3 linked regions of the Homo sapiens genome follow. The protein of the gene in region 2 interacts with the protein of the main gene of each other region in a pairwise test. Each region holds a gene or a part of one and is shown on either strand. Other genes may lie near its edges.

Region 1 (8,168 bases), on a different chromosome or scaffold from region 2:
GCAATTCTCCTGTCTCAGCCTCCTGAGTAACTGGGATTACAGGCGTCCACCACCTACCACCATGCCCGGCTAATTTTTTTTTTGGAGACAAAGAGTCTCGCTCTGTTGCCCAGGCTGGGGTGCAATGGCGCGATCTTGGCTCACTGCAACCCTCCACTTCCCATGTTCAAGCAGTTCTCCTCTCTCAGCCTCCCAAGTAGGTGGGACTACAGGCGCACACCACCACGCCCAGCTAATTTTTGTATTTTTAGCAGAGAGAGGGTTTCACCATATTGGTCAGGCTGGTCTCGAACTCTTGACCTCAGGTGATCTGTCCGCCTCAGACTCCAAAAGTGCTAGGATTATAGGCATGAGCCATCATGCCCAGCCTCTTTCGTACCTTTTTAACATGCTTTTATAGCCACCTTCAGGAACTCATACTTTTTAGGTGGGTGGGCATTTCCCTCCAACTTTCCGTTGATTTCCCTTCTTTATGTACTCTCAGGAGTTACTGTTTTTTAATTACTCCTTTCTTAACCTCGAGTTCTAGAATAAGATTGATTGTCCTATTGGCTTAAGTTGATGGGCGTTTGATGTTTTGTCAGACTTCTAAGGTACAATAGTATGCCGCTTGGTAGTAGTCAAATGCCAAGTTCCTATGCTTAGTTCAGATAATCGAGAGTCACTGTTTTTTGTTTAGAAGAAAATTTTTTTTTTTTTTTTTTTTGAGACAGGATCTCGCTCTGTCGCCCAGGCCTTGGTCTCCCAAAGTGCTGGGATTACAGGTGTGAGCCATCATGCCGGCCTAGAAGAAATTCTTTTTTTTTTTTTTTTTTTTTTTTGAGACGGAGTCTTACTCTATCGCCCAGGCCGGAGTGCAGTGGCATGATCTCGGCTCACTGCATGATCTCGGCTCACTGCAACAGCTGCCTCCTGGATTCAAATTATTCTCATGCCTCAGCTTCCCGAGTAGCTGGGATTACAGGCGCCCGCCACCACGCCTGGCTAATTTTTGTATTTTTAGTAGAGATGGGGTTTCACCATGTTGTCCAGACTGGTCTCGAACTCCTGACCTCAAGTTATCCCCCTGCCTCAGCCTCCCAAAGTGCTGAGCCACCACACCCGGCCAGAAATTTTTTTTTTTTTTTGAGACGGAGTCTCACTCTGTTGCCCAGGCTGGAGTGAAGTGGCGAGATCTCGGCTCACTGCAACCTCCACCTCCTGGGTTCAAGCGATTCATTTTTAGTCGAGACAGGGTTTCACCCTGTTGGCTAGGCTGGTCTTGAACTCCTGACCTCAAGTGATCCACACGCCTCAGCCTCCCAGAGTGTTGATATTACAGGCGTAAGCCACAGCGCCTGGCCTAGAAATTCTTAAGTAAATGGAAAATATATTTATATTGTTCAATTAAACTATATTATGCACTCTGTGTGTGACATTTAAAAAATCAATTACAAAGCTTATGTAATTTTTGATCTTCTGATATAAGTATTGTTTAATCTGTTTATTTGCTTTATTTTTCTGTCTCATAAATGGAATCTTTAAATCTAAATGTAGTGCTATCATGGTATTTTACTGACTTTAGTATTGAGGTGATTACTGACGTTCTTTAAGATAATGCTGGGGAAAAGCAAAGAAGTACCAGTTGGATGTGAAGGAACTTTATTTTTAAAAATGGTCTTTTAGGGGCCATTCTAAGAATAAGAACAGTACTGAAAAAAATACACTTTAGAGTTCAGTCACCTAAGGTTGTGAAGGGGAACATGAAGAAGATTGTGCAGTATGAGAACTTTTAGCAGAAAGCAGAAATATCAGAAATCTATGCCTTAGCATCCTAGAAGCTCAAAGTTGGAGAATAGTTTAGAGGTTTTACATCCAATGCTTGATCTAATGCTTTAATTTCTTTAAACTTACGAATGACTGCGTCTGTTGACAGTACTCACTGTATTCTTATTAAGTGACCTATTGCATGTCTGATCACCCAAAAATTCTCTCATTTTGCTTAAGGATCAATAAAAAATTCTTGACCTTTGCTTGTACGCTTGATCCTTTGGGAGTGACTATGTTAGTTTTCCATTAAGACAACTTTCAAAATATAGAAGGATAATTCTCATGTCCTCTTTTATATTTTTCCAGTCTAAATATGCCTAGTTTCTGCAACTCTTTCTCAAGGAGTGGCTTCAGACTTTCTTGTCCTGGTCACTTTCTTCTTGAGTTCTAGTTTATGTAAATTCCCTCAAAGTGTGACACTCAGAATAATACATCATATTTACTGGTCTTGTAGAGTAGTCTGGGTATTTTTAGTTTAAGTGTTTTTTTGTTAACTGAGAAACCAGTTCCTTTGCACAAATAAACGTTGCGTTAGATATTTTTCTAAAACACTTCAGTATATTCAGAATTCACTCCAACCTGCTTACACTGTGACCCAAAGAATTTCATATCTGTGCCTCTCTTCTTTCCCCGTCTGACTCTAGTAGTCCATCTCTCTTGCCATTATTCCTTACTTAAGAGGCATAAGCATATGTATGTGCTTATATGAACACTCGTGTATATACATATCATATATAAGTAGATATCCTGAGAGATAATTTGAATTAAGAAGAATTAGGATAGTAGCTTGAGTGTGAAAGGGGATTTAAGAATATAGTAGGTGTGAGTTGGAGTGATAGAATAAGATCCATGGAAGAAGTTATGAATTTGGAGGACGAGAAAATGCTCACTGTAGCAAATAAATGAGGCCAACAGTTAGCAGAGTAACCATAGTTGTTGATGGATTTGATAGTATATTAAGTATGATTAAGTATAACTGCTAATGCTTTTTAAATTTTATTTTGATAGGAATCATATGAAGATGGCCCTTGTACTATAACTTCAAATAAGAATTCTGATAATAACTTGCTTTCATTGGATGGATTAGATAACGAAGTCAAAGGTCTTGATATATTTTCTCTAAGTTTCTCTTTTGATTGAAAATATGCACTGTTGTCAGATCATGCTAACCTTTATAGATAAAAGATGGGGGAAATTTTTCATAATACAGAAAGATATTGGGCAGGTTAGTTTTTCTTCTGAAGATTTTACTGAGCTACTTGAGTTTGTTTTTGACACTTAAAAATTTGTTTTATATGAGTAGTGTATAGATTTCTTTTAAAATATTTTGTAGAAAGCAAGGGAAGATGTGATGCACAGCATTAATTATTTAAAAATTTACATGATTTTGAGAGCTTTATTTCTGACTTTATGATTTTTGTAATGATAACAAATTTTTTTTGTTATATTTTTTCTTACGGCTTAGTTGTACTATTTAAAAGTCATTCTTTATATTATTTAAAATAAAGTATTTTTCTCCATTTCCTGGTTTATACCGATTTTCAAATTACTAATACAGGTACCAAAACAAATATTAACTCAAGCTCATTAATTTTGGGGCTGGGGGATGTTACTGCTGTTTTATCTTAGACATTTACCTATACTGAAAGATAAAGGATTTTAACATTCTGCTTTTTTTTTTTCTTTAGCAGTATGGTAGTATTAGCACTGTTTTCTGTTGCATTCTGAGAGTAAAAGAAATAATCTCTTTTTCAGTAGATGGCTTACCAAATAACTTTAGAGCTCACCCACTTCAGTTGGAGCAATCCAGTGACCCTTCTAACAGTATTGATGGCCCAGATCATCTAAGATCTGCTTCATCGTTACATGAAACAAAGAAAGGAAATACTGGAATAATTCATGGTGCATGTTTAACACTTACTGATCATGATAGAATTCGACAGTTTATACAAGAGTTCACATTTCGGGGCCTTTTGCCACATATAGAGAAAACAATTAGGCAATTAAACGATCAGGTAAGGTTTGATTTTTTGGATTAGTATTTTAAAAATTTAAGTAAATAGTAAATTTAAGAATTATTAAACGTATTTGAAGTTTTGTTTTATTTTCGTTTTAAGATAGGCCAATATTAAGACTTCCCAAAATTACTATCAATGATGAAATTCTGTTCAACTCTAGAAGAGGCTTATTCATTTTCAATAGGATTTTGCCAGCATATTGGACAGTTTTCTTTAAATCAGTTTTATTAAAATGAACATTTGCTATTAAAGCTTTTTAGTTAAAATTTTTTTATGTAAAGGAAAAATACTAAATTCTTTGTTTGTCAACATATTTAATCTCTTTTTTAAAGCTAATATCAAGAAAAGGTTTGAGTCGATCTCTATTTTCTGCAACTAAAAAATGGTTTAGTGGCAGTAAAGTTCCAGAAAAGAGCATTAATGACCTGAAAAATACATCTGGCTTGCTGTGAGTAAAGTGTTATCATTTTTGTTTTTCCTCTGTTTAACTCTCTGACTAGTGTTTGATTGTATATCCTGCAGAAGATAACTATCTCTTTAATTTCTTAGTTTCTTATTGGTGAAAATTCAGGTGGATAAGAAGAGTGACTCAAGTAAATCATATTAATTTTTTAAAAACTAAGTAATTGGACATCTAAAAACAAATGGGAAAGTCACTTTTGGTCTGTTTCCTTATTTGTAAAACAATGAAGTTAGACTAGGTATTCATTAGTAACCATTCTATATCTAAAATGTAATGGCCTGATGATTCTAAGACAAGGGACACATTTAATAAATTTTGCTTTACACAAAAAACCATTTTAAGGAAAAAATATAATTAATCCATTTTGGATTTTAATCTTTCTCCTGGTTGTATATAAATGTGAGTCACTTGGAATTAACCATTTACTTCATTATTTGACCATGGAGAAAATGTTTGCCTGCCATTCAGACATTCTCAGGGCTATAAATAATAAAACAAGGAACTTTCTGTTTCCAGGTATTTTTGAGAACTGACACTCTTGTTGGAGGTAGAATTTCTTTGAAACAGCATTAGTTTTCTTCATATTCTAGAAGAACATGGCAGCTTGTTAATGTATTTTATAATTTTAATGGTTTGGGGGGTAATAAATTATAAATTATTTTCTTTTGTATTTACAGGTATCCGCCGGAAGCACCAGAACTTCAAATCAGGAAAATGGCTGACTTATGTTTTTTGGTGCAGCATTATGATTTGGCTTACAGTTGCTATCATACTGCAAAGAAAGATTTTCTTAATGATCAAGCAATGCTTTATGCAGCTGGTGCCTTGGTTGGTATTCTATGGTATTATAATTCCTTAATTCTGCTACCATAAATTATTTAGAAATTTCTCTTGGTGGCAAACAGAATCCTTAGGGATAAAGTTGTACTCAAAGAGCATATAGTACTTTACAGATTGTTAATTCCTTAATGCTGAGTTGATGGATTTCCCTCAGACTAGTTGATTAGCTGGGTATGGTGGCACATGCCTGTAGTTCCAGCTGCTTGGGAGGCTGAGGCAGTAGAATTGCTTGAGCCCAAGCGTTTGAGACCAGCCTGAGCAACATAGTAAGATTGCATCTTTAAAAATAAATTGAAAAAACTTATTTCTTAAAAACAAAACCCAAAAAACTAGGTAATTAAAAAATGGTCATGTATTAGGGTTTCTTTCTTTATTAGTACTTTCCAACTTTTGCATCAGCTTTCAGAATTGTATTTCATTTTCTAATATATTTAAAATACAAAAATTTTTTTAGAAGTTTTTTTAAACCTTGACAAACATTTTTAAGTTGCTTGATGTATGACTTCATACATCAAGAACATGTACTTTGGTGTGAGACACTCTCTCATCTTAGGCAAGTTATTGAATATCTCTAAGCTACAGTTTTCTGACCTGTAAAATATGCGAATCCTAATGGTATAGGATCAGATAAAGTATAAAGCATGCACTTAGCATAATGCCTTATATATAATAAGCTGTCAGTAATATCAGTTGTGTTAGTTTTGTAATTGATTACAAAGCCAGGTATTTCCAAAGAATTTGCTATACTTGTTGCCTAAAACCTTTTAATGTTTTTGAAAAGTTACCACAGATATATGTGTAATCTGCTTTATGTGTTCAGAAAAGAGTAAAATTAGCACTGTTACTTTTTATTTAATCTTTTAAAAGACATGTAAGCTTATAAACAAAAGTGAAGAAAAAAGTTTATAAGAATAATTCATAGGTAATTGTGTAGATACTTTTTTTTAGCTAGAAAATATTCACAGGCTGACAGATACTTGTTTAATAACTGGCATTTGTTTTGCATTTATTTTAATACTGTGCATATATAAAATATGTAACTTAAAAATGGAAGCCAGAATAGCAAAATTATATTACTATTGCTTTCTGGTTCTCTAATTTTTTAATGAAAAAAGTCAGCCCACTTTTTTTTTTTTTTTTTTTCCTGGAGACAGAGTTTCAGCTCACGGCAACCTCCACCTCCCGGGTTCAAGATTCTTGTGCTTAAGTTTCCTGAATAGCTGGGATTACAGGCATGCCCGACCATACCCATCTAATTTTTTTTTTTTTTTTCGTATTTTTAGTATAGACAGGGTTTCGCTGTGTTGCCCAGGCTGGTCTCGAATTCCTGACCTCAGGCAATGTACTGTGCCCGGCCAACCAAGTTTTTAAAAACCTTTCATAGAAATGGAAAATATGCTATGTTCATGAGAAGTGTTTGAAAATATAAGTGAATTTTCCTTGGCTAAATATTCTCTGATTGCTCATTATAGTCATCCAATTTAAGCTAATATGAAATCACAAATACTTCATGTTATTATTAATACCTTATAACCTAGGTATGCATTTGTAATGAGAAATTTTTATTTAATGTACCTGCAAGTAGAATGTTTGATAAAAACTACATTTAAGCCATTCAACTGGAAGTATTAGTAGCTATTTGAGAGAAAATAATATAGCACTGGAAAATAAAGGCATATTTATTCTTAGATGATATATGTGCACCTGAAAATCACTTAGCCTTTAAAAGCTACCCTAAAAATAATGGGCTTCTGAGAAAAGTTAGACTGGGTTAGTCTTCTTGAAACCTATTCATCTTTGTAACCAGAGCACAAACAAAAACATTAAATGGTACCTTGGAAGATTACCTAAATAATCTAGATAGGCAGCTTAGCATGGCTGAGGATACCTCAGGGAATATAAAAAATAATTTTTTTATAGAGATGGGGATGAGCAAGAAGAGTTCCCAACCGATGGAGCTGCCATGAAGCTGATCATAGAAGAAAGTACAGCCTGCCCTGAGCCCAGAGCTGTGCAAGGCTGGTGGTGTACTTCTCTGGAGACACAGTCCATATGCACCAAAGTGTAGGCATTCAGTTTTTAGCAGCTGAAAGAGCGCCTTTCTGTGCAGCAGCTGAGCTCAGGGCTTTTTCCTTTCCTACTGAAGGATATAAGTTTATAATACTGCTATTTTTGATTCCCTTGCCTAAGAAAAATTATGTATGAATAAAAATTTAATTTGAACTGATATCACTTCCCTTACCATTCACATGTTAACTAATTGATAAGATAAAAATGTGTTGTAGTAGAATAGACTAGATCGTATGCCTTTTTAGATGAAAATTATAGAAGATATTTAGTCATAGTAACTACAAAGGCAAAATAAATATCACAGCAAAACCAGTAATAGGAATGCTTGCAGACTTTTTTTTTTTTTTTGAGATGGAATCTCACTCTGTTGCCCAGGCTGGAGTGCAGTGGCTTGATCTCAGCTCACTGCATCCTCCACCTCCTGGGTTCAAGTGATCCTCCTGCCTCAGCCTCCCAAGTAGCTGGGATTACAAGCATGTGCCACCACTGCCAGCTGATTTTTGAATTTTTAGTAGAAATGGGGTTTCACCAAGTTGGCCAGGCTGATCTCGAGCTCCTGACCTCAAGGGATCTGCCTGCCTCAGCCTCCCAAAGTGCTAGAATTACAGGCGTGATCCACTGGGCCTGGCCAAGAAAACATGTTTTAGAGCTGTACGATATTTTGTCACATGGATATTATGTATTTTATTTAGCTTCTTCAGTGAATTTTAGAGCAGATACTGCTGAGTGCTGAGGATACAGAGGCATTCTAAAATAGATATCGTTCATATTGTCATTCATGGAACTATCAGGTTAAAGGCTTTAATCATATTTCAGTTCTCAAATCATTATTTGTTTTTTCTTCTATTTTAAAAAATGTTGCAGAGAAGTACATTTGTTTGTCTTAAAAGTGAATTATGGCTTTCCCATCCTGCTATTCTCCCCTCTCAGCCTCCCGAATAGCTGACATTACAGGCATGTACCACCAC
Region 2 (8,168 bases):
AGCTGAAGAAACCAAGATCCCAAAAAGTTAAGTGAGAACCAGAAATATTAAACTAAGAAGTTAGTAAAAAAGAGAAAATATGCCAGGCATGGCCTATAATCCCAGCACTTTGGGAGGCTGTAATCCCAGCATTTTGGGTGGCTTTTGTAATCACGTCTGTAATCCCAGCACTTTGGGAGGCTGTAATCCCAGCATTTTGGGTGGCTTTTGTAATCACGTCTGTAATCCGAGCACTTTGGGAGGCTGAGGTGGGTGGATCACGAGGTCAGGAGTTTGAGACTAGCCTCGCCAACATGGTGAAACCCTGTCTCTACTAAAGATACAAAAAATTAGCCAGGCATGGTGGCGCACACCTGTAATCCCAGCTACTCAGGAGGCTGAGGCAGGAGAATCACTTGAACCCAGGAGGCAGAGGTTGCAGTGAGTCTCACACTCTGTCCGAAAAAAAAAAAAAAGAGAGAAAATATACACATTAACCATAAAAATGTAATTAGAGCCTGGATACCCCAAAAATATAGAAAATAGGCAATCAGGCCGGATGCAGTGGCTCACACCTGTAATCCCAACACACTGGGAGGCCGAGGTGAGGTGATCACTTGAGCCCAGGAGTTCAAGACGAGCCTGGGCAACATCGTGGGATCCCATCTCTAAAAAATTTTTTTAAAAATTAGCCAGGCATGGTGGCCCACACCTGCAGTCCTACCTCCTTGGGTGACTGAAGTGGGAGGATCACTTGAGCCCGGGGGGGTCAAGGTCAAGATAGGCCATGATTGTACCACTACACTCCAGCCTAGATGACAGAGCAAGACCTTGTCTTAAAAAAAAAAAAAAAGTGATCTACCATACATCTACATTTCACTGTCATTTAGTTATAGTGTTTCTTTTTTTTCTTTTTTTTTTTTTTTGAGATGGAGTTTTGCTCTTATACCCCAGGCTGGAGTGCAATGATAGCACGATCTCAGCTCACTGCAACTTCTGCCTCCCGGGTTCAAGTGATTCTCCTGCCTCAGCCTCCCGAATAGCTGGGATTGCAGGCGCTCGCCAGAACGTCCAGCTATTTTTCATATTTTTAGTAGAGAAAGGGTTTCCCCATGCTGGCCAAGCTGGTCTTGAACTCTTGACCTCAGGTAATCCACCTGCCTTGGCCTCCCAAAGTGCTGGGATTACAGGCGTGAGCCATAGCGCCCGGCCAGTGTTTCTTTAATTGGTCACTCTATGACTATTTAGCTACAGTTTAGTGTTATTGTAACATGTCTCTCATTTCATAGAAAACTCTTTAAACAAAAAAGAACACCTTAAAACATATTTTTAATTCAATAGTTTGTTATGATTAGCACTGTACTTTTCCCTGTAGTCCTACTATTAACAAAAACCCCAACTTCTATTCCATTAAATACCTTAGATGCATGTTCTAAATACTGTTTTCCTGCAGACATCTGAGTAAGCAGGCGAAATTTGTTGTCCTGAAGTACATAGATGCCCTGTTCCAAAAATAGAAAAAAAATCCAAAGTCAATGTACCTAGCAGTCCTTAAAATTATTTTATTCTTATGAAACAATTTAAGTGTTTTTTAAAGTTATTAAAAGTCTCCTTCCCATTGGCCAAGTTTTCTTTTTCTGTTCTTTGAGACGGGGTCTCCTCTGTCGCCCAGGGTAGAATGCAGTGGCACAATTACGCCTCACTGCAGCCTCCAACTCCCAGACTCAATCAATCCTCCCACCGCAGGCTCCCAAGTAGCTGGGACTACAGGCGTGCATCACCATGCCCTGCTAATTTTTATATTTCTTGTACAGATGGGGTTTCGCCATGTTGCCCAGGCTGGTCTCAAACTCCTGGGCTCAAGCAATCTGCCCACCTTGACCTCCCGAAGTGCTGGGATTACAGGCATAAGCCCACGTGCCCAGCCTGGTCAAATTTTGTTTAAATGAAGGAGTTTTGCAATGTTCAAGCTGAAGAGTTGCGAGTTCAGTATTTTCACAACACTAATGTATACCGAACGGTTTTATACACTGAAGATAAAAACACTGTCTGAGACATAGTCCCTATCCTTAAAAACTCATAGTCTAGTACGATGGAATCATTAATACATGTCCACATGAAATAAGCTGTTTGTTTGTATAGTTATTTATTTAGACATGAGCTCTCACTCTGTTGTCTAGGCTGGAGTGTGGTGGTGCAATCACAGCTCACTGCACCCTCAAACACCTGGGTGTTTAGCAATTCTCTTGCCTCAGCCTTCCGAGTAGCTGGGACCACAGACACATGCCACCACACCCGGCTAGTTTTATTAATTTTTTGTAGAAAGGGGGTCTCCCTATGTTGCCTAGGCTGGTCTGGAACTCCAGGGCTCAAGTAATCCTCCTGCCTCAGCCTCCCAAAGTGCTGAAATTACATGTATGATCACCACACCCGACCTAATTTTTATTTTTATTTATTTATTTTTTTGAGACAGAGTTTCACTCTTGTTGCCCAGGCTGGAGTGCAATGGCTCGATCTCAGCTCACCACAACCTCCGCCTCCTGGGTTCAAGTGATTCTCCTGCCTCAGCCTCCCAAGTAGCTGGGATTACAGGCATGCGCCACTACGCCCAGCTAATTTTGTATTTTTAGTAGAGACGGGGTTTCTCCATGTTGGCAGGGCTGGTCTTGAACTCCCAACCTCAGGTGATCCACCCGCCTTGGCCTCCTGAAGTGCTGGGATTATAGGCGTGAGCCACCGCACCCGGATTTATTTGTTTATTTGAGACAGAGTCTTGCTCTGTCGCCCAGGCTGGAGTGCAGTGGTGTGATCTAGGCTCACTGCAACCTCTGCCTCCCGGGTTCAAGCAATTCTCCTTCCTCAGCCTCCTGAGTGGCTGGGACTATAAGCGTGCGCCAATATGCCTGGCTAATTTTTGTATTTTTAGTAGAGACAGGGTTTCACCACGTTGGCCAGGCTGGTCTCGAACTCCTGACCTCAGGTGATCTGCCCACCTCGGCCTCCCAAAGTGCTGGGATTACAGGGGTGAGCCACCGCGCCCAGCTTTATTTTTTTAAGAGACAGAATTTTGCTGTTATCCAGGCAAAAGTGTAGTATTTCACTGTATCCTTGAACTCCTCCCATGTAGCTGAAACCTCAGGCACATACCAATATGCCTGGTGAAATTTTTTTCAAGTTTTTTGTAGAAATAGGTTCTAAGTATGTTGCTCAGGCTGGTCTCCAACTCCTGAGCTCAAGCAATCCTTCTGCCTCAGCCTCCCAAAATGCTGCAATTCTAAGCATGAGCCACCATGTCCAGCCAGCTGATATATATTAGTAAATCATGTCTAGAGAGTAAAAAAATCATAGTCATTTCTTCCTATTAGCATTTCCAGTAATTCCAAGCTAAAGTTGGTACAAAATGAATTCCAGGCCAGGCACAGTGGCTCACACCTGTAATCCCAGAACTCTGGGAGGCCAAGGCGGGAGGATCCATTGAGCCCAAGAGTTTGAGACCAGTCTGGAAAACATAGTGAGACACTGTCTCTAATTAAAAATAAATAAATAAATGAATTATCCTATTGAGAGTACCAGATACATTTAATTTTTTACTTAATCAAAATTCCAAATCTACTCTAAGTATTTCCTTGAAGTTCATAAAATAAAATCTAATGAAGCTGGGAGTGGTGGTGCATGCCTATAATCCCAGCTATGCAAGAGGCTGAGGCCAAAGAATTACTTGAGTCCAGGAGCTCAAGACTAGTCTGGGCAACAAAGCGAGACTCTGTCTCCCTTTTAAAATTTTAATAAATACATAGTTTTCTATGTAATCTATTAATTTTGTAGTAAGAAAATCTTTTAAGAGTAGAAAATATGACAGCAGTAATAATCCAGGAGTTATTTAAGAGTAAAATGCTCTATAAATTAGACTTTAGAAATGACTATAAAGAATCTCTTCCTGCCACCCAAGATGCCAAAAGGAAAGGCCAAGAGGAAGGAGGTGGCTCTGGCCCTTGGTGTCATGAAGAAACAGGAGGCCAAGAAAGTGGTGAATCCTGGTTGGGCGTGGTGGCTCACGTCTGTACTCCCAGCACATTGGGAGGCCGAGACAAGCGGATCACTTGAGGTCAGGAGTTCGAGACCAGCCTGGCCAGCATGGTGAAACCCCACCTCTACTAAAAATACAAAAATTAGCCGGAGTGGTGGCACATGCCTGTAGTCCCAGCTACCTGGGAGCCTGAGGCAGAATGGCTTGAACCCAGGAGGCGGAGGTTGTGGTGAGCCGAGATCGCACCATTGCACTCTAGCCTGGGCAACACAGCAAGACTCCATCTCAAAAAAAAAAAAAAAAAAAAGAAAGAAAGAAAGTGGTGAATCCCCTGTTTGAGAAAAGGCCTAAGAATTCTGGCATTGGACAGGACATCCACCCAATATGGACCTCACTCACTTTGTGAAATGGCCCCGCTATATCAGGTTGCAGTGGCACAAAGCCATCCTCTGTAAGCAGCTGAAAGTGCCTCCTACAATTAACCAGTTCACCCAGGCCCTGCACCGCCAAATAGCTACTTAGCTGCTTAAGCTGGCCCACAAGTACAGACCAAAGACAAAGCAAGAAAATAAGCAGAGGCTATTGGCCCGGGCTGAAAAGAAAGCTGCAGGCAAAGGGGATGTCCCCACTAAGAGACCACTTGTCCTCCGAGCAGGAGTTAACACCATCTCCACCTTGGAGGAGAACAAGAAGGCTCAGCTGGTGGTGACTGCACACTATGTGGATCCCATCGAGGTGGCTGTCTTCCTGCCTGCCTTGTGTCATAAAATGGGGGTCCCTTACCGCATTATCAAGGGGAAGGCAAGACTGGGATGTCTAATCCACAAGAAGACCCGCACCACTGTCGCCTTTACACAGATTAACTCAGAGGACAATGGAGCTTAGGTTCAGCTGGTGGAAGCTATCAGAACCAATTACGACAGACAAAACGAAATCCACTGTCACTGGGGAGGCAATGTCCTGGGTCTCAAGTCTGTGGCTTGAATTGTCAAGCAGGAAAAGGCAAAGGCTAAAGAACTTGACACCAAACTGGGTTAAACATACACTGTTGAGTTTTCTGTATATAAAAATAATTAAAATAATCCAAATTCTTCTTCTTCAAAAAAAAGAAATGACTCTAAAGACATAAAGGTGATATATTTGTGGTTCTGCATATTATTACCACTAATTAACAGTAACTAAGGAACCAAATAGTAAAAGCTATTCTCATCCTGACTTATGCTACTTTAAAAAACTTAACATAGCATATAATTGGGTGAAAGGAACAGCTATCATTACTGATAACTGTCCCTTTGTCTTTACTCAGTTCACACTATTAGAAGAAAAAAACTAATAACTCATTAATAACATAAACATATTCCAAAGTTAACCAGAAATTATTTTAGGTTTTAAATAAGTCACTAAAATACGATATTTATATCAAGTTAAAGGACTTTAAAATATAGGCCTTAATTAATTTAATTACCTGATGATTTGTCCTTAGATTGTCGATTTGTTTCTTGAATACCGTAGTCCAAAAATCTTTACAAATGAACTTCATGATATCTAACTCATCCTTGAACCTTGCAGTATCTTTTGTAAACCTAAAAAGATCAACTAGAAGTAATACAGTATTTCTCCTCCAAAAAAAGCAAGAGGGACTAATTATTAACTAATTTCCAAATGCCAGAACAGCACTGAACATTTATTGGGTTTTTTAATTTTAATTTTTTTTTTGAGACAGATTCTGGCTCTGTCGCCCAGGTTAGAGTGCAATAGCATAATCTCGGCTCATTGCAACGTCTACCTCCCTCCCAGGCTCAAGCTATCCTCCCACCTCAGCCTCCCTAGCAGCTGAGACCACAGGCACATGTCACCATGCTCAGCTAATCTGTATATCTTTGTAGAGACAGGGTTCCACTTTGTTACCCTGGCTGGTCTCAAACTCCTGAGCTCAAGAGATTCTCCCACCTTGGCCTCACAAAGTGCTGGGATTACAGGCATGAGCCACCACACCTGGCTGAACATTTATTAACACTAATAAAGTCATAAGCACCAGGTAACATGATCCTATCTCAATGGATTCACATTATGTTATATAAATTATGAGGCCTCAAATTAGTCTAACATTATAGCCAAAATTTCAGGTGCAATGCATTCTAGCACATCAAAAAACCACAAAAGAACAAAGAGCTGAGCATTATCATGACATTGTTATATAAAATATACTCCGAGTTTAACTATTCAGGTAGTGAGAAAGAAATACTAAAAAGAACTGATTTATAAGTTCAAAGATAATTACACGCATAAACATAGACTATAGTTATTTCAAACCTATGTACTTAAAAATTCTATGCAGGTTAAAGAACCTAGCAGATCTTAAGTTGAAAATGCAGTAAGATTTTAGATAGTTGCTTCAATAGCTTCAGGAATAAAGTCTAAAATAGCTTCAGGAAGAAAGTCTAAAATATATAAAATATATATTTTCTTTAAACATTAAAATAAAATTTGAATAAATGAGTTAAATGGCATTGGATCTAAAAAGAAATTTTAATTTTTGAAGTAAAGAGAATAACATTCAGGAATTAAAATTAAAATATCCCAAGTTTTATGCAATCTTTTGAAATAGATCACCTTTGTTTATAACCTACCTGCAAGAAAATTTTCAAATCCAACCTGCTCACCTTTCTATCAATCCTTGTCCCACTCGAAACCCCATGTTTTCCAGCTTAGTAATACATCGTCCGTTTTCCTATTTTAAAAAACAATAGTTTTAAATACTTTTAGAATGCTAGGATGTTAGTATTCAGAAATTGTTTTACAAGATTGGTTAAAAATATTAATGTAAACATTTATACTTTTTTCCCTGAAACAGTTTAAGAAAAAGTGAATTATAAGGTTGATTTTATTTATTTTACTTTACTTTTACTTACTTTACTTTTTACTTTTTTTTTGATAAACAAGTTAATTCATAATTTAGTCAACATATACATGATTAACCTAAAAACTTCAATAGAAGGATACATTTTTTTAATTTATTTTGAGATGGAGTCTCGCTCTGTCATCCAGGCTGCAGTACAGTGGGGCCATCTCGGCTCACTGCAACCTCCATCTACAGGGTTCAAGTGATTCTCCTGCCTCAGGTTCCTAAGTAGCTGGAATTATAAGCACCCACCACCATGCCTGGTTAATTTTTGTATTTTTAGTAGAGAAAATACAAAAATACAAAATGTTGGCCATGCTGGTCTCAAACTCCTGACCTCAAGCAATCCACCTGCCTTGGCCTCCCAAAGTGCAGGGATTACAGGCGTGAGCCACCGCGCCCAGACAGAAAGATACATTTTAAAACCACTTGGAAGGCCATCTCTATAGAAGTGATTTTCCCAGGATAGTAACCAGATGTAACCTAACCCAACACCATCTTAACTGTCAGAGGTTCAATGGGTTAAAGCTTTGTGCTCCTCCCTGACACCAAGTCTTTTAATAGAAACAAACCCCTCAAGACACGGTGGCTCATGCCTGTAATCCCAGCACTTTAGGAGGCCAAAGCAGGAGGATCACTTGAGCTCAATGGCTCAAGACCAGCCTGGGCAACATAGCAAGACCACATCTGTACTAAAAGTAAAAATAAAATAGCTGGGCATGGTAGCATGTGCCATTTTGGAGGCTGATGCAGGTGGATTGCTTGAGTCCAGGAAGTTGAGGCTGCACTGAGCCATGATCATGTCATTGCACTCCAGCCTGGGCAACAGGTTGAGCAAGGGACCCCATGAAAGAAAGAAAAGAGAAGAGAAGAGAAAGAAAAGAAAAGAAGAGGGGAGGGGAGGGGAGGGAAGGGAAGGGAAGGGAGAAAGAGAGAGAGAAAGAGACAGAAACAGAGAGAAAAGAGAAAGAAAATAATTTCACTATTGTTTTCTCTTAGAAGAGGAGAAAAATCCAACCTACTTAGGAGACCAACCACAACACAATGAAAAGTTGCACTAACTACTTCAGAATATTAGTAACAGCCGATGTTGGTAGGAATAACTGGTATTTATTCTAGAGTTCTTATAAATAAAATCCCACAGTTAGCATCTGCATTATCATCTAGAGGGTTAGTTAACACGTAGTAGAATGAGGACTTATGCAAGGTGTAATACACATAACATTTTACTACTATGAAAACAAATGCAGTCCAGTTAGG
Region 3 (8,168 bases), on a different chromosome or scaffold from region 2:
AAGACATAGGGAAATGAGAATATCACCATTTTGCAACCTTTAGGGAATTAGTGATGTGAAAATAAATGGCTGCCAATTTCCAAAAGGAGAGGTAATCGGACATCACGCACCTGCTGGAAGAACAGCAACACCCATGATAAAGTCCTGCCGACAAAAAATCCAGCCTGAAGCTGACCCAGCCTCCAGCTCCAACTACCAAAGTCTAGGCAGTGGGACCTTTTCAAGACAAATGAGCCAGGTTCATCAAGTTATAAAGAAAAAAAAAGAGACAGAGGGAACATGAAGATTTTAAGAGACTTAAAGGATTTATCTAAAAACTGTATTTGGATACTAATTCAAACAGTTTTAAAAATGGACATTTAAGACACACTGGAAACTTAAACACTGAATATTTGGTATTAAGAAACGTTTTAGGCCCAGGCATGGTGGCTCACACATGTAATCCCAGCACTTTGGGAGGCAAAGGTGGGCGGATCACCTGAGGTCGGGAGTTCGAGATAAGCCTGACCAACATGGAGAAACCCCATCTCTACTAACAAACCCCGTCTTTGTAAAAAAAAAAAAAAAAAAAAAAAAATTAGCTGGGCATGGTGGCACACGCCTGTAATCCCAGCTACTCGGGAGGCTGAGGCAGGAGAATCGCTTGAACCTGGGAGGCGGAGGTTGCAGTGAGCCAAGATCGCACCACTGCACTCCAGCATGGGCAACAAGAGTGAAATTCCATCTCAAAAAAAAAAAAAAAAAAAAAAAATTTAGCCAGGCATGGTGCCATGTGCCTGTAATCCCAGCTACTTGGGAAGCTGAGGCAGAAGAGTTGCTTGAACCCGAGAGGCGGAGGTTGCAGTGAGCTGAGATTGTGCCACTGCACTCCAGCTTGGGCAACAAGAGCGAAACTCCATCTCAAAAACAAAAACAAAAACAAAAGAAAGAAAGAAACGTTTTAGGTGTAATTAAAAAATACCATGAAAGAAAAAAAAAAAGAAAGAAATTTTTAAAAAGAAAAAAAAATGCCATAGACTGGGTGGCTTAGAAAACAGTTTTTTGTTTTCTCTCTGAAAAGACCCTAAGAAAGAAAAAAAAAATCGCAATGTATTTTCTCATAGCTCTGTAGGTCAAGAAGCCCGAGATCAAGGTGTCAGTAGATTAGGTTTCTGGTGAGGCCTGTGTTACAGACTGCAGACAGCCACTTCCTTGCTGTTATCCTCAGGTGGCCTTTCCTCGTTTCAAGGGGGAGGTGTCCTCTCACTCTTCCTCATCTAATCCAATAATAAAGGGCCCACCCTCCTGACCTCATCTAGCCCTGGTACTTCTCAAAGGCCCATCTCCTATTCTTAGCACACTGGGAGTCAGGGCTTCGGTGTGTAGGGAGGGACACAAATGTTCAGTCCATAACATCCATTCGTGGATAAATTATATGTCTGAGATTTGCTTCAAAATAATATAAGACTGGGGAGAATGAGGGGTATAGAGAAGCAAGATTGGGCAGTTCACCTAATTGCTGTAGTTGGGTGAAAGGTTTGTAGGGTCTCTTTATAATATTCTGTCTACTTTGATACATATTGCACTTTTATAATAAAATATGTGAAATGTTACAGTTCTTCCATTTCCCTTATCCTTCTCTTTTTCTTTTTTCCATAGCACTTGTCACCTAACATTATTTGTCTATTGTCTATCTCTTCTTGACAGAATGTAAACTCTCAAAGGGTTGGGATCTTTGCTCTCTGACATAACCCAAGCCCCTTCAGCAGTAACTGGCATGTAATAGGTCCTCCGTAAATGTTTGCTCACTGATGAAAACAGCCCAACTCCTCCATACTCCACACTAGACAACCCAGGATCCCCAAAGGACAGAACAGACTACAGGAGAAGCAAAGACAGTGCTGGGTATCAAGTTCTCAGAATAGGAATTTAATTTTGGAATAAGACTATACTAAAAATTTCTAGTGTATAGCTTACTTACTCAATTCTTAGAATGCTAAAGTGACATTTTTATTTAATTATATGGCAAAGGCTTTCTCAGAAGCATAATTTTAGGGACAAACTCCCTGCTTCCATGTGAACAGATGGTGTCTGCCTTCCCTAAGTACTTGGTAAAGCAGGAGTCATCAGACATGCTAATATTGGTCCGAGCTGTGCTACTAAACAGTTACACTGATCATGGCCAGTCACAGCAAAACCAGCCCTCAGCTCCTCAACTTCAAAATGACTTCTGACGGCCCTTCTCATTAACCTGGATGTTTAGAGCTTGCTGACTGGTCTAGGTGAACTGACAGTGCCCACAAATGGCAAGCTACAGATTGAGTTAAAGTTACTATCCAAACAGGTGGTTGTCAGTTCCAAGGCTCTGCTAAAAATTTCAACCCTGAAATTGTTTTTTTTTGTTTTTTGTTTTTTGAGACAGGGTCTCACTCTGTCGCCCAGACTGGAGTGAAGTGGCACAAACATGGCTCACCGCAGCCTCAAATTCCTGGGCTCAAGCGATCCTCTGGCCTGTCTCCCAAGTAGCTAGGACTAGAAGCACGCACCACCATGCCCAGCTAACTCTGAAATGTATACAATCGCTTCAAACTGCTAACAGATCTCAGTTAAAAATAAGAAAAATGGGCCAGGCGCGGTGGCTCATGCCTGTAATCCAGCACTTTGAGAGGCCGAGGCGGGCAGATCACAAGGTCAGGAGATCGAGACCATCCTGGCTAACACGGTGAACTCCATCCTTACTAAAAATACAAAAAAATTAGCCAGGTGTGGTGGTGGGCGCCTGTAGTCCCAGCTACTCGGGAGGCTGAGGCAGGAGAATAGCGTGAACCCAGGAGGCGGAGTCGGAGCTTGCAGTAAGCCGAGATCACGCCACTGCACTCCAGCCTGGGCAATAGAGCGAGACTCTGTCTCAAAAAAAAAAAAAGAAAAGAAAAGAAAAATGTCCAAACATACAATGGAATGGTCCCTGGTCACTGTTAAAAAAAAAAAATTGCAAACAGGGGCCTAAAATAATATTCAGAAATTAAACACCATGTAACAAATGTCCAAAAAGCCACATAAGGGAGAGAGCACAGAAGAGGCTGGACTTTTCCTAAGAAGGGATCACCCCACCTTGTAACCACATCTAGAACCCAGAAGCCCAAATGTCAAGATAACATTCCCTCGGTCAGGAGTACACGAAGGACAAACCTCCAAAGACAGACGCAGCTGTCTAAAACCAAAGACGCTTGATGAATGCCGGCCACTGCGCGCTTGGTAGCTAACACAGACAGTGGTGCGGCAGGTGGCATGGTGCCCCACAACATCCTAACCCTCAAAACCTGTGAATGTCACCTTATTTGGGAAAGGGGTCTTTGTAGACTTAATTAAGTTCAGGAGCTCAAGATGTGATTATCCCAGATTATCCAGGCAGGCCCTATATATAGCTGGATTCTAGATATATTTCAAAGATAATGTCAGTTGTGAGAGAAAAAAGAAGTCATAAATGACTCCAAGGTTATCAATTTTTAATTTAAAAACAAATATTCTCTAAGGCCAAAATACTGTGACTATATTTGACATTAAGAGCAGATAGAGGAAAGATTTGAGGAAGAAAGAAGGTGAGACACAGGACAGGAAGCCACAGGAAGCTCTGAGGCAACCCACCACAGAGGCAGGCACTGAGGTGGGAATGTTTTGACTGTTTAAGACCCTGCAGCTGTCTGGGCACAGTGGCTTATGCCTGTAATCCCAGCACTTTGGGAGGCCAAAGAGGGCGGATTGCTTGAATCCAGGAGTTCAAAACGTGCCTGGGCAACATGGCGAAACCCCATCTCTACTGAAAATACAAAAAATTAACTGGGCATGGTGGCACACAAGCAGCTACTCGGGAGATTGAGGTGGGAGAATCACCTGACCCCAGGAGGTCAAGGCTGCAGTGAGCCGAGATCATGCCACTGCACTCCAGTCTGGGCGACACAGTGAGACCATGTCTTAAAAAAAAAAGACCCTGTAATCTTCTGCCGTTGCTGGTCTCTAACTCCAGATCTAAAGCCACCAGGTCTAGAGTGGAGCACGGGGGTGGGAGGGTCAGTACTTGGAGATCAGTGTGCAATACCTTTGGAGACCACACACTTACACACTAAGGCATGCGACTCCAGGGAAGACACTCTGTCAACTGGCAACAAACTTTCCTACGACAAAAAAATCCTTAAGTCAGTTATTTGTATTTCCATTAAAAGATAACCAACTCAGCCAGAGTGAGCCACACAATCACACTGTCAGTTGGCAGGCCTCTGGTGGAAGCACACAGCAAAAACTCTCTAAGGAAAGACTGGTTCATGTGTTATGCCCGACATACTTTTTTTTTTTTTTTTTTGAGACGGAGTCTCACGCCAGGCTGGAGTGCAGTGGCATGATCTCGGCTCACTGCAACCTCCGCCTCCCAGATTCAAGCAATTCTCCTGCCTCAACCTCCCGAGTAGCTGGGACTACAGACGCGAGCCACCACGCCCAGCTAATTTTTGTATTTTTAGTAGAGACGGGGTTTCACCATGTTGGCCAGGGTGGTCTCAATCTCTTGACCTCATGATCCACCCACCTTGGCCTCCCAAAGTGCTGGGATTATGGCCATGAGTCACTGCGCCCAGCCTTTATTTTTTTTTCTGAGACCAGGTCTTGCTCTGTCACCCAGGTTGCAGTGTGAGGTACAATCACAGATCACTGCAGCCTTGACGTCCCAGGTCCAAGTGATCCTCCCGCCTCGGCCTCCCAAGTAGCTGGGAGTACAAGCGCACACCACCACACCTGGCTAACTTTTTTATTTTCATTTTTGTAGAGATAGGAATTCCCTATGTTGCCCAAGCTGTATCATACTTGATTATTTCAGAGATTCATCAGCACTTAAGAAAAAAAGAAAAAAAAAAAGAAAATCAGACCTTTCCATTTCATTTGCATAAAGAACTTACTAGAAACTCTTCAGAAACACATCTTGTAGTAAAGTAGGTGTGTGAGCTGAAAAGAAAGGAAGCTTTTCAATTCTAAAGTATCAGTTCAAATCCACCCTGGAGTTGGGCTAATAACACTAACAGCACGGGTTCCCAAACTGTGTACCTAGGCTTCCCACACACTACGCAGAGAGGCACCAAGAGATATTTTAAATTTATGAGGGAAACAGCAATGCTTGTGGTGTAGGAACCCCACACAAGGTATTCACAGTGTCAACATCAGATCAGGGCTCCACTTCTTTCGATGACATCATTATCGTCGCAAAACAGGGTGGCTGCTCTGATAAAAAGCAAGTACCACCAAAAAGAAGAAGAAAAAAAAAAAACCAAAGGGAGAAGCAGCGTCCAATCCGACCTTCAGGTGAGAGGTGCCACAGAGCTCCCGCAGGGCCTGCCCCCCACGTAGCACACTGCTGCAATTAGGAAGAATGATGAAAATATTTTTTTCTTCCAACTTATATATATTTTTTTTCAAACAGCTCTTGTTAGGACATAATATTTAATAAATTACTGGAATCTAACTACTTAATAAATGGAATTTTTAAGTATTCCTTTTAGCCTAGAGATGCCATGAAAAAAATTACCGAGACACTAAAAGCATTGTGAACAGAGAAAATTGAGGAACCTCTCCTTAGTAACTTTTTTTGCACACTGACTATAATCCTGACACTCTCCTGAGTGCTTTACACACCCTTCTCAACCCGATGGGGTTGGTACTGTACCCGTTTCACAGCTAAGGGTCTGTGAAATTATGTAAGAACCGAGGTCATGCGTACAAGATGGAATGGTTTGTAACCATGCTCGGGTAGAAATGACATAGTAAGTTAAGCACATTTGTTGGTGCCTTTAGTCCCCGCCTCCAAATACATACTCTCTGCAACAACTGCGATTTCCTAAGAAGAATGTTTCTCCTACTTTTCAATCTTTGGTTCAACATTGCCTTGAGAATTCAATATGAAACAAAATCTGCATTTATAACATATTCACCCATTTAAACAGACATTTCAAGTGACTTTTCTGGTAGTAAAACTAGTGATGGTTAAATCGCAAGCACCACATTTTCAGGTTTAGTAGAAAATTTCAATGTGCAAATTTAAAAACTTTAACCTGGCTGGGCGCGGTGGCTCATGCCTATAATCCCAGCACTTTGGGAGGCTGAGGCGGGCAGATCACAAGGTCAGATCAAGACCATCCTGGCTGACACGGTGAAACCCCGTCTCTACTAAAAATACAAAAAATTAGCCAGGCGTGGTGGCGGGCGCCTGTAGTCCCAGCTACTCGGAAGGCTGAGGCAGGAGAATGGCGTGAACCCGGGAGGCGGAGCTTGCAGTTAGCCAAGATCACACCACTGCACTCCAGCCTGGGCAACAAAGCAAGACTCCGTCTCAAAAAATAAAAATTAAAATTAAAAAAATTTTAACCTACAGGGGAAAATCCCAAAGTCCAACCAGACACGAAGCTCTACATATCTGCTCATTTCTGTTGCCTGTTTTCCCCTTTAAAAGTTTCTAATATCAGACCTGGAACCCCAAATACAGAAACTCAGAAAAATGAAACAGGCAACAGATGTGACTAATGAGAACAGATCACCTAGAGGGAGGGTACTATTATTGTTCAGAGAAATTCAATTCCAAGCTAATAACAGGTATGTGCTATTGTAGGTATGAGGACAGTCAACAAAGAAAAGCCACAAATCACTGGAATTACATTAACTTTGTCACTAACTGAATGAGATGGCTGGAAAAGGAACGTGTCTTTCCTAATACACCCTTGGAACAGAAACCCAAGTCTATTTCAAAACAGAAAACTGACCCTGTGGCTGAAAAACAAATCTACGCTAAAATTTAAATTTAGACCAAATGGATCTGCTGGATTTGTTTCAGTTACGCCAGGCATTTTTCATGATTAATAAAATATACTACAAGTTTTCCTATTGCTATGATTCGGTCATTCATCACCCAACCCCGTCAAAGCATTAGTTCCACTAACTGTTCAGCTCCCATCCCTGCACATTTCACATACACTCTTCAGTATTTACAAGCTGTAACTAGTTCTGAGTTTAAGAAGGCCCCTACTGTGCTAGTCCCTCTTCACAGGAGCCCGTTAGGCAGGAGGTTTAATTATGGGCTAAAGTCTATTAAAACATTTAGGGCCAGGTGCGGGGGCTCACGCCTGTAATCCCAGCACTTTGGGAGGCCGAGGCGGGCAGGTCACCTGAGGTCAGGAGTTCTAGACCTGCCTGGCCAACAAGGTGAAACTGTGTCTCTATTAAAATACAAAAATTAGGTGGGCATGGTGGTGTACGCCTGTAATCCCAGCTACTTGGGAGGCTGAGGCAGGAGAATCGACTGAACCCGGGAGGCAGAAGTTGCAGTGAGCCGAGATCGCGCCACTGCACTCCAGCCTGGGCAAGAGAACAAGACTCTGTCTCAGACAGAAAAAAAAAAAAAAAATTTGGAGAGCTTCAAAATATTATTAAAATAATTCAGGCCAGGTGAGGTGGGTCATACCTGTAGTGCTGGCTACTTGGCAGGCTAAGGGAGGGGTCACTTGAGCCCAGCAAGGCTGCAGTCGGCTATGACCATGCCACTGCACTCTAGCCTAGGTGACAGAGCGAGACCCCATCTCTAAAAAAATAATAATAATAAAATGAAGTGAAATAATCAGCTAGGTTTTAAAGTAATAATCTATTCTAATTACCCTTAATCTTTGGGAACTTTTCATTCTTCTATCCCTACATATACACAGTTTTTAAATTCACCTGAACCAGTTACATTCTATATTCTTCCCAGAAAGGTCTAAGCAGAATGCATTTTCACTGAAGTAAAATATTATACATTCTATGGAAAAAAAATTCACAACATGCATAAACTCTACTTTCATTTTAAAATGAACAGATCTGAGGTAATACCATTTCAAGTAAGAATTTAAAAGATTTTTGAAAACAAAAATGTTGCCTACTAAGAGAACTATGTACATAATATTAAAAAGTTAAGGGTTAATTAGCCTCTGGGTGGATTTTTTTAAAGCAATTGTTCATACCACCTTCTCCTTTCAAAACATGTATAGCTGAAAGAGAGGAGCAAGATGAAGGCATAAAGTGAAACCAGGCCAAGTGCTTCCTAAAGCTTCAGTCCCAGATATACCACAACATAATTTCAAGTGGGAAGTATGAAGTCAGCTTTTTACCTTCACTTTTAAAGT

The links. Proteins that work in one complex are often made in the same cells at the same time.
Region 1: the proteins of TRAPPC6B (region 2) and TRAPPC8 interact in a two-hybrid assay, tested with the Homo sapiens proteins (one study listed by BioGRID).
Region 3: the proteins of TRAPPC6B (region 2) and TRAPPC10 interact in a two-hybrid assay, tested with the Homo sapiens proteins (one study listed by BioGRID).

What each region holds. Positions count from the first base shown.
Region 1 is NC_000018.10:31,904,410-31,912,577, reverse strand, and holds part of TRAPPC8 (trafficking protein particle complex subunit 8), read left to right. Parts: intron 1-2,817; coding exon 2,818-2,911; intron 2,912-2,933; exon of another isoform or gene 2,934-2,994; coding exon of another isoform or gene 2,995-3,034; intron 3,035-3,564; coding exon of another isoform or gene 3,565-3,567; coding exon 3,568-3,824; intron 3,825-4,159; coding exon 4,160-4,275; intron 4,276-4,967; coding exon 4,968-5,118; intron 5,119-8,168. UniProt on the Homo sapiens protein: Plays a role in endoplasmic reticulum to Golgi apparatus trafficking at a very early stage. Maintains together with TBC1D14 the cycling pool of ATG9 required for initiation of autophagy. Involved in collagen secretion.
Region 2 is NC_000014.9:39,152,814-39,160,981, forward strand, and holds part of TRAPPC6B (trafficking protein particle complex subunit 6B), read right to left. Parts: intron 6,738-8,168; coding exon 6,670-6,737; intron 5,590-6,669; coding exon 5,472-5,589; intron 5,104-5,471; exon of another isoform or gene 4,309-5,103; intron 1,482-4,308; coding exon 1,398-1,481; intron 1-1,397. UniProt on the Homo sapiens protein: Component of a transport protein particle (TRAPP) complex that may function in specific stages of inter-organelle traffic.
Region 3 is NC_000021.9:44,014,860-44,023,027, reverse strand, and holds part of TRAPPC10 (trafficking protein particle complex subunit 10), read right to left. Parts: intron 1-8,168. UniProt on the Homo sapiens protein: Specific subunit of the TRAPP (transport protein particle) II complex, a highly conserved vesicle tethering complex that functions in late Golgi trafficking as a membrane tether.